Linked DNA regions of Homo sapiens. The protein of the gene in region 3 purifies or fractionates together with the protein of the main gene of each other region. This does not show direct contact. Each region holds a gene or a part of one and is shown on either strand. Other genes may lie near its edges. The genes, in order: ILKAP, MRRF and FBH1.

Evidence for each region.
Region 1: the proteins of FBH1 (region 3) and ILKAP purify together in Homo sapiens (affinity purification with mass spectrometry; one large-scale study listed by BioGRID and IntAct). This does not show direct contact.
Region 2: the proteins of FBH1 (region 3) and MRRF purify together in Homo sapiens (affinity purification with mass spectrometry; one large-scale study listed by BioGRID and IntAct). This does not show direct contact.

The regions. Positions count from the first base shown.
Region 1 is NC_000002.12:238,169,789-238,172,737, forward strand, and holds the end of ILKAP (integrin-linked kinase-associated serine/threonine phosphatase 2C), read right to left. Parts: intron 1,237-2,949; coding exon 1,155-1,236; intron 889-1,154; coding exon 748-888; 3' UTR 614-747; downstream 1-613. UniProt on the Homo sapiens protein: Protein phosphatase that may play a role in regulation of cell cycle progression via dephosphorylation of its substrates whose appropriate phosphorylation states might be crucial for cell proliferation.
Region 2 is NC_000009.12:122,309,835-122,313,489, reverse strand, and holds part of MRRF (ribosome-recycling factor, mitochondrial isoform 1 precursor), read right to left. Parts: intron 264-3,655; coding exon 104-263; intron 1-103. UniProt on the Homo sapiens protein: Responsible for the disassembly of ribosomes from messenger RNA at the termination of mitochondrial protein biosynthesis. Acts in collaboration with GFM2. Promotes mitochondrial ribosome recycling by dissolution of intersubunit contacts.
Region 3 is NC_000010.11:5,935,092-5,938,097, forward strand, and holds the end of FBH1 (F-box DNA helicase 1), read left to right. Parts: intron 1-1,364; coding exon 1,365-1,496; intron 1,497-1,959; exon of another isoform or gene 1,960-2,018; coding exon 2,019-2,189; 3' UTR 2,190-2,502; downstream 2,503-3,006. UniProt on the Homo sapiens protein: 3'-5' DNA helicase and substrate-recognition component of the SCF(FBH1) E3 ubiquitin ligase complex that plays a key role in response to stalled/damaged replication forks.

The DNA.
Region 1 (2,949 bases), on a different chromosome or scaffold from region 3:
TTCCAGCACAGGGCCAACTCCCCACACCTACCTCACGTGGGAAGCAGAATTTCCGGGCCATGCTGAGCAGCCGGCTGCCTGCTCCAACAGGAAGGTGCACACCTACACCCAGGGAGTCCAGATGGAAGCCACTGAACCGAGTCCTCCACAGACTCCTTCCACCAGACTGCAGCTCTCACCAATGGAATGAGAATGGCTAATTCTGTACTGTTTCTGGCAGGTCTGATGCATGAGTAACCTTGTCTATGAGTCTATTTCCTGGCTAAGCCTGAGCTCATGCTATGTAACATTTTGCAACACTATTTCCATAGGGAAAACTGAAAAGAGCTAGAGGGTTCCCAAAGCCCTGGTCTGGGCCTAGCCTTGACTAACCAGTCATCCCCTGGGTCTCTTCATTGCAACATGCCACTTCCCCAACCAGGGTCATCATGACAGTGAAAGCACAGCAAAATGCCCGTGAACTACAAAACATCACACAACCAGCAGCCTGCAGGCCACTACGAGCCAGTCCAAGATGCCTATAATGGTTTTAACAAGGAAAGACAGCATATTCAAAAGCAAACACAATCTCTGAAGGGTCAAGAGGTGCTCACAGTATAATAACTCAAAAGACTAGGAAAAAAAAAGAGAAACCTTTATTTACAACCATGGGAGTCCCACAGGAGTACACAAAACACACAATGTGCACACACACAAAATGAACCTTTTAAGTCAATACCATGCGTGCTCCTGGCCGCGCGCCACCCCTCAGTGCCCTATCCGCACCACCATCACAGTGACGTTGTCGGCCGAGCCCCGCTGCACCGCCTTGTTGGCCAGCCTGTTGCAGGCTGCTTCGTAGCGGGCGTCGGCTGCGGACTTCCCTTCCCGGGTCTGGATCTTTTCATCCTACCAGATGAGAAAGGGAATGAGTGAATGGAGTGACCCCGCACCCTGTCACTTTCCTGAGACATGACTGCCAGGAAGAAGAGCTGCTCTGGTCTCCATCAGGGCTGGCAGGACAAACTGACCAGTGAGTCAGTAGGCAGAGTTCACACTGAAAAAGGGCACAAGGGCTGTCCCACAATGGGAGGAAATGGGGTCTCAGAACTTCTACTTCTCTGAAAACTAAGACACAATTGGGACAACCACCACCCCCGTGTGAGATTTCTCACCTCGAGACAGGACAAGATGAAGTTCACGGCTTCTTCTGGGGTAAAGACCTTGAAGAGCCCATCACAGGCCAACAAAATGAACCTACAACACCAGGGAGAAATATAAACGGGTTTTAGGCCCAACCAAAAAATAAAAAATAAAAAAAGGGCCTGGAGATGGAGATAAAATAAATATTTGTCCAACTATTCAAAGGCTAAGGTTTTTTTTTTCTTTTTTCTTTTTTTTTTTTTTTTGAGATGGAGTTTCACTCTTGTTGCCCAGGCTGGAGTGCAATGACGCAATCTTGGCTCACTGCAACCTCCACCTTCCCAGTTTAAGCTGTTCTCCTGCCTCAGCCTCCTGAGTAGCTGGGATTACAGGTGCCCGGCACCACGCCCGGGTAATTTTTTGTATTTTTAGTAGAGACAGGGTTTCACCACGTTGGCCAGGCTGGTCTCAAACTCCTAACCTCAGGTGATTCACCTGCCTCAGCCTCCCAAAGTGCTGGGATTACAGGCATGAGCCACAGCGCCTGGCCAGGCTAAGATTTGTTTAAACCCACTTAATTTCTGAGACAAAGGTTTAAACTACTTACAAGTATTTGTGGATAGGATGTTATACATCAAAACTGAGACTATCCTTCTCTTCGCCAATTAACAGAATTATTAATTACCTCAAACATTAGGTGCTGTACTTTCTTAGGCAAACTCCAGAAAAATCACTGAATAAAAACATGGGTGTTATGGTAAATATACAAGAATTTATAACACCATAGGCCTTACACCACTTCCAGACATAAAGCTGAGAATGAGCCCAGCCTCGGTGAAACATCCTTGGGCACACACTGCACAGCTTGGGGCTGCATCCAAGACCGAGGCCCAAGAAGGGGCAGCTGTGCGTGTTCCTGTGTTTGAAAACCACATGCTCTCCCTTTCAGAATCAAACCCCCCTAGACCGTCCCTGGAATCTTTCTGAACACCAATGGATTCAATGTGACAGTTCTAGTTTTCCTGGCATTGGGGGTGGGGAATACGCATCCCCACAGCTTTGCGGTATAAGCCACCCTCCTTTTCTCACTGTAATATCTGTGGGGTTTTTTTGTGTTTTTTTTTCTTTGTTTTTTGTTGCTGCTGCTGCTGTTGTTGTTGAGGCGGACTTTCCCTCTTGTTGCCCAGGCTGGAGAGCAATGGCATGATCTCGCTCACTGTAACCTCCGCCTCCCAGGTTCAAGTGATTCTCCTGCCTCAGCCTCCTGAGTAGCTGGGATTACAGGCGCCCACCACCACGCCTGGCTAATTTTTGTATTTTTGGTAGAGATGAGGTTTTGCCATGTTGGCCAGGCTGGCCTCAAACTCCTGACCACAGGTGATCCACCTGCCTCCGCCTCCCAAAGTGTTGGGATTACAGGCGTGAGCCACCACACCCAGCCTGTTTTCCTCGTTTAACTAGGCTTTCACTCGGCCGCTACTTGCCGAGCCTATCGTCCATGCTGAGAACACCGTGGGGCCTAGTCCTGGCAGGCTCCCACCCCTTCCAGTGTCCTGAGACTCAGACCCTCAATAACCAATCACACAGACCCATGACTACAACCCAGGAAGGCGAGCTAGGAAGCAAAGCAGAAGGTGCATCCTTCAGAACACCAGAGGCGGCGGCTGCTGGAGAGATGATGGAGGACCCCGCGGTACGTGAGAACATGACAAACACACTGAAGAAGATGTGGAGAATGGGGCAGTGGCTCAAGACAAGGCCAAGCAGGCGAGTGCCAAAGCAAGGCACGCGCTCTTCATCCGCAGCACTGGGGCGGGACTCAGAGCA
Region 2 (3,655 bases), on a different chromosome or scaffold from region 3:
GAAAGATCAGAGGTATTCTGTTTTAACTGTCCTCACCTCAAACATGAACAAATGATTCCTTATGCTGAATACACAGACACTACTACATTGCTGGCAATAGTACCTGTTTCTCTATTAGCCTAATGGTGTCCTCTGAGACTGTATCCTTGGATTTCTTCAGCTTGTTCATTGAGTTGGTGCGAACCTTCCGTAAAGAGTCTTTGGCCTTGTTGGTGTTCTGTTTGGCCAGTTTCACCAGCATTTCTCTGTGCTCTCTGGTTACTCTGATAAAAGACAAAAGACATTCAACAAAATCATTCTATACATTAACTGCTGGCCAAGAATTTAACATCACTCTGTCAACCAGTTCAGCAGTTTGTAACTTTCCTCTCTGTGGGCTGAACTCCTGGAATTTCCAGGAGGAGGAAAACGCATGTATAAAGGCTTTAAGTTGCCCAAACATGGGCAAACTGGGTTTGACTTTGTAGAAGGTACCAAACTTCCCAGTGAGAGAACTGGGATTCAAATCCCAATATTTCTGGCCTGTATTCTTTCTGCTACTCTTCTAATCTATTTCAAGTAAATCATGCACTGCTGCCATTACTTCTGCTTCCAGGCAGAAAGCTCTTCACAGTCAGTAATATGAAGCTTGGGACTGAAAAGGACAAAACCATCAAGAGCCCATGCTTCATTTAAGGAATTGGCTGGAGCACTGATAACAAAGAAAGGAGTGACAAGAAAAGAGGCTGGGAAGCCATATCACAGACAGTCTTGCAAGGTCACGAACCACGTTTTACAGATGAAGAAAATGAGGCCCAAAGAAATTTGGTACCTTATACAAAGTCAGACCCAGTCAAACCCAAGCTGGCCTGTCACAAAAGCCAATGGTCTTAGTATGACAGCATTCCTCTGCCCCCTGGGTCCTGAAATGGACATGCTTATGCTTCCTTACTCTCAAATCAACACGGTTCTTGCTCAAGGAAGGACAATCCTAAGTTCTGGGTACATGTTCAGTGTGGAATAGTGATGAGCAGCTGTTAAAGATTTAGTAACATCTACCTTACATTTTCTCTGCTGAGAAAAAAAATTAAAGAATTTTGAGAAAGAATAAGCTCTGAAGTGAACAGTTGTATTTACGTAAATCCTTTTGGATTCAGCTATTTGAAGGTATTCTCAAAACAACAATGAGTCTAATTACTACTATTATTAAACCGTTCTATGCCACATGAGTACTTTAAGTGTGTTACTTCATTGAATCCTCACAACTCTTCAAATGAGGAAACAGGCTCACAGATGTTAAGTGACTTGCCCATGAGCATGAGTGAGAGAACTGGGATTCAAACCCCGATCTTTCTGGCCTGTATTCTTTTTACTCTTGTAATCTATTTCAAGTAAATTATGCACTGCTGCCATTACTTCTGCTTCCAGGCAGAAAGCTCTTCAAAGTCAGTAATATGAAGCTTGGGACTAAAAAGCACAAAACCACCATGTCAGGAGTTTAGGGATTTGGATCAGATCTTGTTACTTTTATGGTTTTTAATTCATTGAACAAAAATCATGCTGACATGTTTAGGTCTCTTTTTTGTTCTGCCAAAGCATATGTCAGTATAAGGAAGGAACAGGAAAATTAAAACTTGATCCACTGATTCAAGAACTTAATCCTGCTGAAATACTAAGAGGGGCAGAAAATAAATGAATCTAAGTCTTTAAGAAACCTCATAAACTTCTCCAAAAAGAACATACTGAAGTATTTCAATATTGCATTTCACATAATTTCAAATAGGTATCTCACTGTTTAGAAAATGCTTAATCAAAGAAAAAAAATTATCTGATCAACTTTTCTTTTCACTACAATGTTATATTTTAAATGGAGGAAAAAACATACATTAAAAAATATAAAATGAGACTCAAAAAAATCTTAAGAATTAAAGGCTACAGAAAGAAAACAAAATCATAATATAGGTAATTTGGCCTTAATAAAATGTATTACTTTGTATTTATTAATGCAAATGTGACATTACCACACTATTAACACCAGTTTCCACATGTAATCGTGTCCAATCACTGACATTGTCAAAAATATTTCCATTTCAGGATGCAAAGAGGCAATAATCAAAAAGATACTACAAGGAAATGGAGAGTGGAGTGCAGTGAGAAGGGAGAAAGGGAGGGAGGAAGACAAACCATGCTGGACACAGGGAGGGCTGAGGGGGAGAAGGGCATGTGTGTGCTGGTTCAGGGTACTGAGCTGAAAGGTATCTAAAATACAAGATCAGAAGCAGTTAGGGTGATGGCAAGGCACTGGTTTTGAAGTCAGACAGACTAGGTTCATACCTGTATCTATTGCTCAGAAGCTGACTATCCTTGGGCAAGTTACTTAATCTCTGTGAGCCTCAGTTTCCTTATCTCTAAAATGAAGATTTAAAAAGACACCTTACAGGAGGATTAGGAGAAGCAGACACAACAGATAAAGTACCAATAAAGAGAGCAGCATATATAGTAGCCTTGAATAAATGATAGTGTTTATGAATGTTTTAATCAAACATGTTTAATTACTTCCTCATGAAACAATGAGGGCATATCTGTTTTAGAAAATAAACATATTTTATTATGGAAATATTTTCATTCTTTTCCAAATGTGATTAATACATCTGATCATCTCCACCTTGCATTCCTGGGTTTCTGTGAGTATGCACTAGAGTTTGTATTCCAGGCTTCTGAACTCAGCTGGTTAGTTCTGAGTACCCACTTTAAGTTGATGTGCATTCACCCATCAAGCACTGACTGAGCCTCCTACGCTCTGTGCCAGTTCTTGGGCCAGACCAAGGAGCTCCAGAAGAGGCAGACCTGGCCCACCTTTTCCAGAGGCTCAGACTAGTGGTGGAGACAAACTTGTCAGCCACTACGTAGAAAGAGGATGACTGTTGCTAGTATCTACTGCGGAAGGAGCATACAGAAAACACAACACTTCTATCTTGAGATTTGGAAACCGCCTTATGGATGCACAGTAACTTGTTAGCTGCAGAAGAATGCAAAGTGCATTTTGGGAAGCACAGTGGGAGATGTAGTGGAGGGACAGCATGAAGCTGAAAAGGGTACATCCCAGTCAAATATACTCTACAGGCCTGGAGTTTTCAAATTCTTCTTTAGCCACAAACCCCTGGCTCCAAAGAAAACTGAGGCAGAGGCCCCATTTGCAAAACAGATAAAAAGAGACTACTTCAGTTGATGAGGAGGAGCGGTGGGCTCTATCCCAGGCTACAAAACTCAGATCCGACCCCACTTCTGGGCCTGCCACTTACAAGCTGAGTGACCCTATGCAAGTTATTTAAACCGTCTGAGCCTTGCTCTTCTCATTTGGAAACAGAAATTAAAAACAAACAAATGAAACAGAACCTCCCTTTCAGAGTTATTGTGAGATTTAGATGAGGTAATACATGGGAAGCATCCAGTACAAGGCCTGATAGAGAATAAACACTCAGGAAATGTAAACTGTCTCTGCTGCTGTTGTTGGTTACATTTTTGGAAGCCCTGAAGCATCTTCAAATAATGAAAGTTTTTAATCAACAGAGGAATGACAGAGCAAAGATCTATGCTATGGCAAGATGACTTTTTGAGATCTCACTGGTAATTTAACATCTCACAGACATTTTAAAATCCAAACGCTCTCAGCATG
Region 3 (3,006 bases):
TTTGTGAAACTTTTCTTCCATGTGTGTTTCTTACATATGTGCGTATGTATAGCATTATAATGGTAACTGCGTCAAAAACGGCTTGAGAGCCTAGCCCTGGAGAAACTTCTGGAGTGGACAGGGAGTCAGGTACAGGATGTTCATTGCTGCATTGTTGGAAATAGTTTGGAAACAACCGAGTAACCACAGCAAGGGAATGGGTAAATGAAATACAAGAGAGCGCTGTGACTGAGTCCTCTACAGCATTTTAGAAAACCTAGGTGAGGAGGAAGCCAGAAGCGTAACATTCATGTAAATTAGACATCTATAAAAGGAGACCTGTGTCCTTGGACACGTGTAAACGAGAAGCTATTTCACCGTGGGTTGGAGGGACCTCGCCAGGTTCATGGTCTTGGCTGTCTCTCGGGAAGGAAATTGAGATGACAGTCCAAGGGACTTCAGCAAAATCTGTGACTTCAGACAGGATTTCACCTCGTCAGCTGTTAGTACTTGTTGGCCATAACTGGAGTGTTTGCCTGGTGGTTTTCTGTTCTTTTTCATAGCTGGTAGGCAGGCCGTCTAAGAGAAAAGACCAAATAAATCAAAACGTAGGTTACAGATTGTAGAATAAGTAGATCAATAGCTGGTCATAATCCAGAAAATACGAAACCGTCCTTTCCTGGGCAGCAGATGTGTGCGGTCCTGCTAGCATATCAGTCTGTGATGTGGAGCCCCACAGGGCAGCAGCGAAGCTGACAGTGCCCTGTCCTTGTGGTGTTTCCAGCCTGGGAGGTCACTAGTGCTTCCTCTGGGTGCTCCCTGCGTGCCAGGCGTGAGTGCTTTGCATGCATTGAAGGGTTTCTTCTCCTCAGCAGCCACCTGAAGCAGGCACCGTGCCATCTGCATTTATGGATAAAGACACAGGCTTAGCGAGGCTGTCATTTGCTCACTAGCACAGCCAGCAGCACGGGACGGTGGAAATACGCAGGGATGTTTGGGGCAAGTTTTCTTCATGTCCTCTGTGTTGCCTGCCTGGCTTATAATGTGAATACACAATAGTTTTCTGAAGATTGAGCTGGGGATACCTTAGCATAAAATAAAATCCAGAAATATTCTGGAAATGTCATTACAGGCAATAGTTTTGCATGTTTATCTGTTAAATATATATATATTTAAAAAGCAATTGGACTGTCAGTTGGACTGTCGATAGCTTTGGAGGCAGGGAAAAGTTAGAGGAAGTAAGGGAGAACGGGTTAGGCGGGGTTTTTCTCTCTGGGACTTACAGTGCATCTAAAGGGTTCTCACAGAGCCGCCGCTATCAGTGTTTCCAGTAGACCCTAACGGAGGTGTCGCCATGACTCTCTTTCTCGCTCTTTCTTTCTCAGGAGTACTTCTTGCAAGCAGAGCTGACAAGCAACGTCTTAAAAACAGGCGTGGTGCGCTGCTGCGTGGGACAGTGCAACAATGCCATCCCTGTTGACACCGTCCTTACCATGAAGAAGCTGCCCATCACCTATGTACGTCTGCTGTCTGTGGAACTTAATTCAGCCATTTGCATTTTTTGCTTGTGAGCTCTGTGCTTATCTGGGTTGTAGGTGAGGAGATAAGAGAGAGCTGTGTGATCCTTTATTAGGGGCTTTTCATATGAGAGGCACAAGAGGTGTGTGGTCTGTCCCAGGGTCAGAGGTCAGGGCACGTGATGCTGCCTGGCTGTGCTGAAGCCGCAGGTCTGGGAGGCTGGGTTGTGATACACGCTTAGAGAGAGAGCTGTTCCCTGGGGTCCCAGCGCAGCTTTTCTTGGTTCTTTATCTTGACTGGATAAATGACTGTTTCTGAGCTCAGGGAATTTGGGGGTGTTGAGGCCACCTAGTTGGTGGTGCTGTGGGAGGTGTTACTCTGAGGATGTGCACCCCTCTGAAAACATCAGAATCCAAATGCGTTGTCCCTGGGCAGCTGTGATGATAACTCCATGCTTTTTGCTGGAAAATCCATGTTCTTTGGTTGTTCCCCTTAGCTCTCTCTCTTGTCCATCACCACAGAGCAACAGGAAGGAAAACAAGGGGGGCTACCTCTGCCACTCCTGTGCGGAGCAGCGCATCGGGCCCCTGGCGTTCCTGACAGCCTCCCCGGAGCAGGTGCGCGCCATGGAGCGCACTGTGGAGAACATCGTACTGCCCCGGCATGAGGCCCTGCTCTTCCTCGTCTTCTGAGGACAAGGCGCACGTTCTCCGCAGTGCAGAGCAGCTTGCCGAGGACCCCGCGTGAAGAAAGCCAGCGAGGGGGGCTTCTGCTCCCTGAGACTCTGGGTTCACCCACAGCACTTTCTGAGGAAGAGGACACCAGCCCAAGCTGGACCTGCCATTTCTCCACTCCCTACAGACAGCCAGTCTCCACTTGCCTCCCCTCTGGATGTATCTGGTCAGGGAAGTGGGGGATGTTCTTTTGATAAAAAAAAAAAAAAAAATTTATGTATTTAAACTTTTATTACAAGATTTCAATTAAACAGGCACCATAGCACTGGCATACCGCTGTGTGATGTCTGCGTCAGCACTGTCGTTCTGAACCTTCTCTTTTTCCAGCTTACTCTTTCCTACAGCACTGTCACTGTTCACAAGACACAGGAAGCAGAGTATGAGACGTGATGTCTTGGGTGGGAACTGAGGCATCAAAAATGAGACTTTGGCCGGGAGCAGTGGCTCACACCTGTAACCCCAGCACTGAATCCAGCCAAGGCAGGAGGACTGCTGGAGCCCAAGGTTGAGGCTGTGAGCCGTGGTCACCTCACAGCTCACTGTACTCCAGCCTGGGTGACAGCGGGACACTGTCTCAAATAACAATAATGTTTTAAGGAGGTCAGATAAATTACAAGGCTAACAGGATCATAATCTCAGCAAGAAATGACCCCAGATGGGCTGGACCACAGCGCCTGTGGGGCCTGGTGAGGAGGGAACGGATGCGAAGATCAGTGGTTCTCAAAGTGTGGTTCCAGCAAGCAGCGGCAACATCACCTGGGAACTTGTTAGAAAT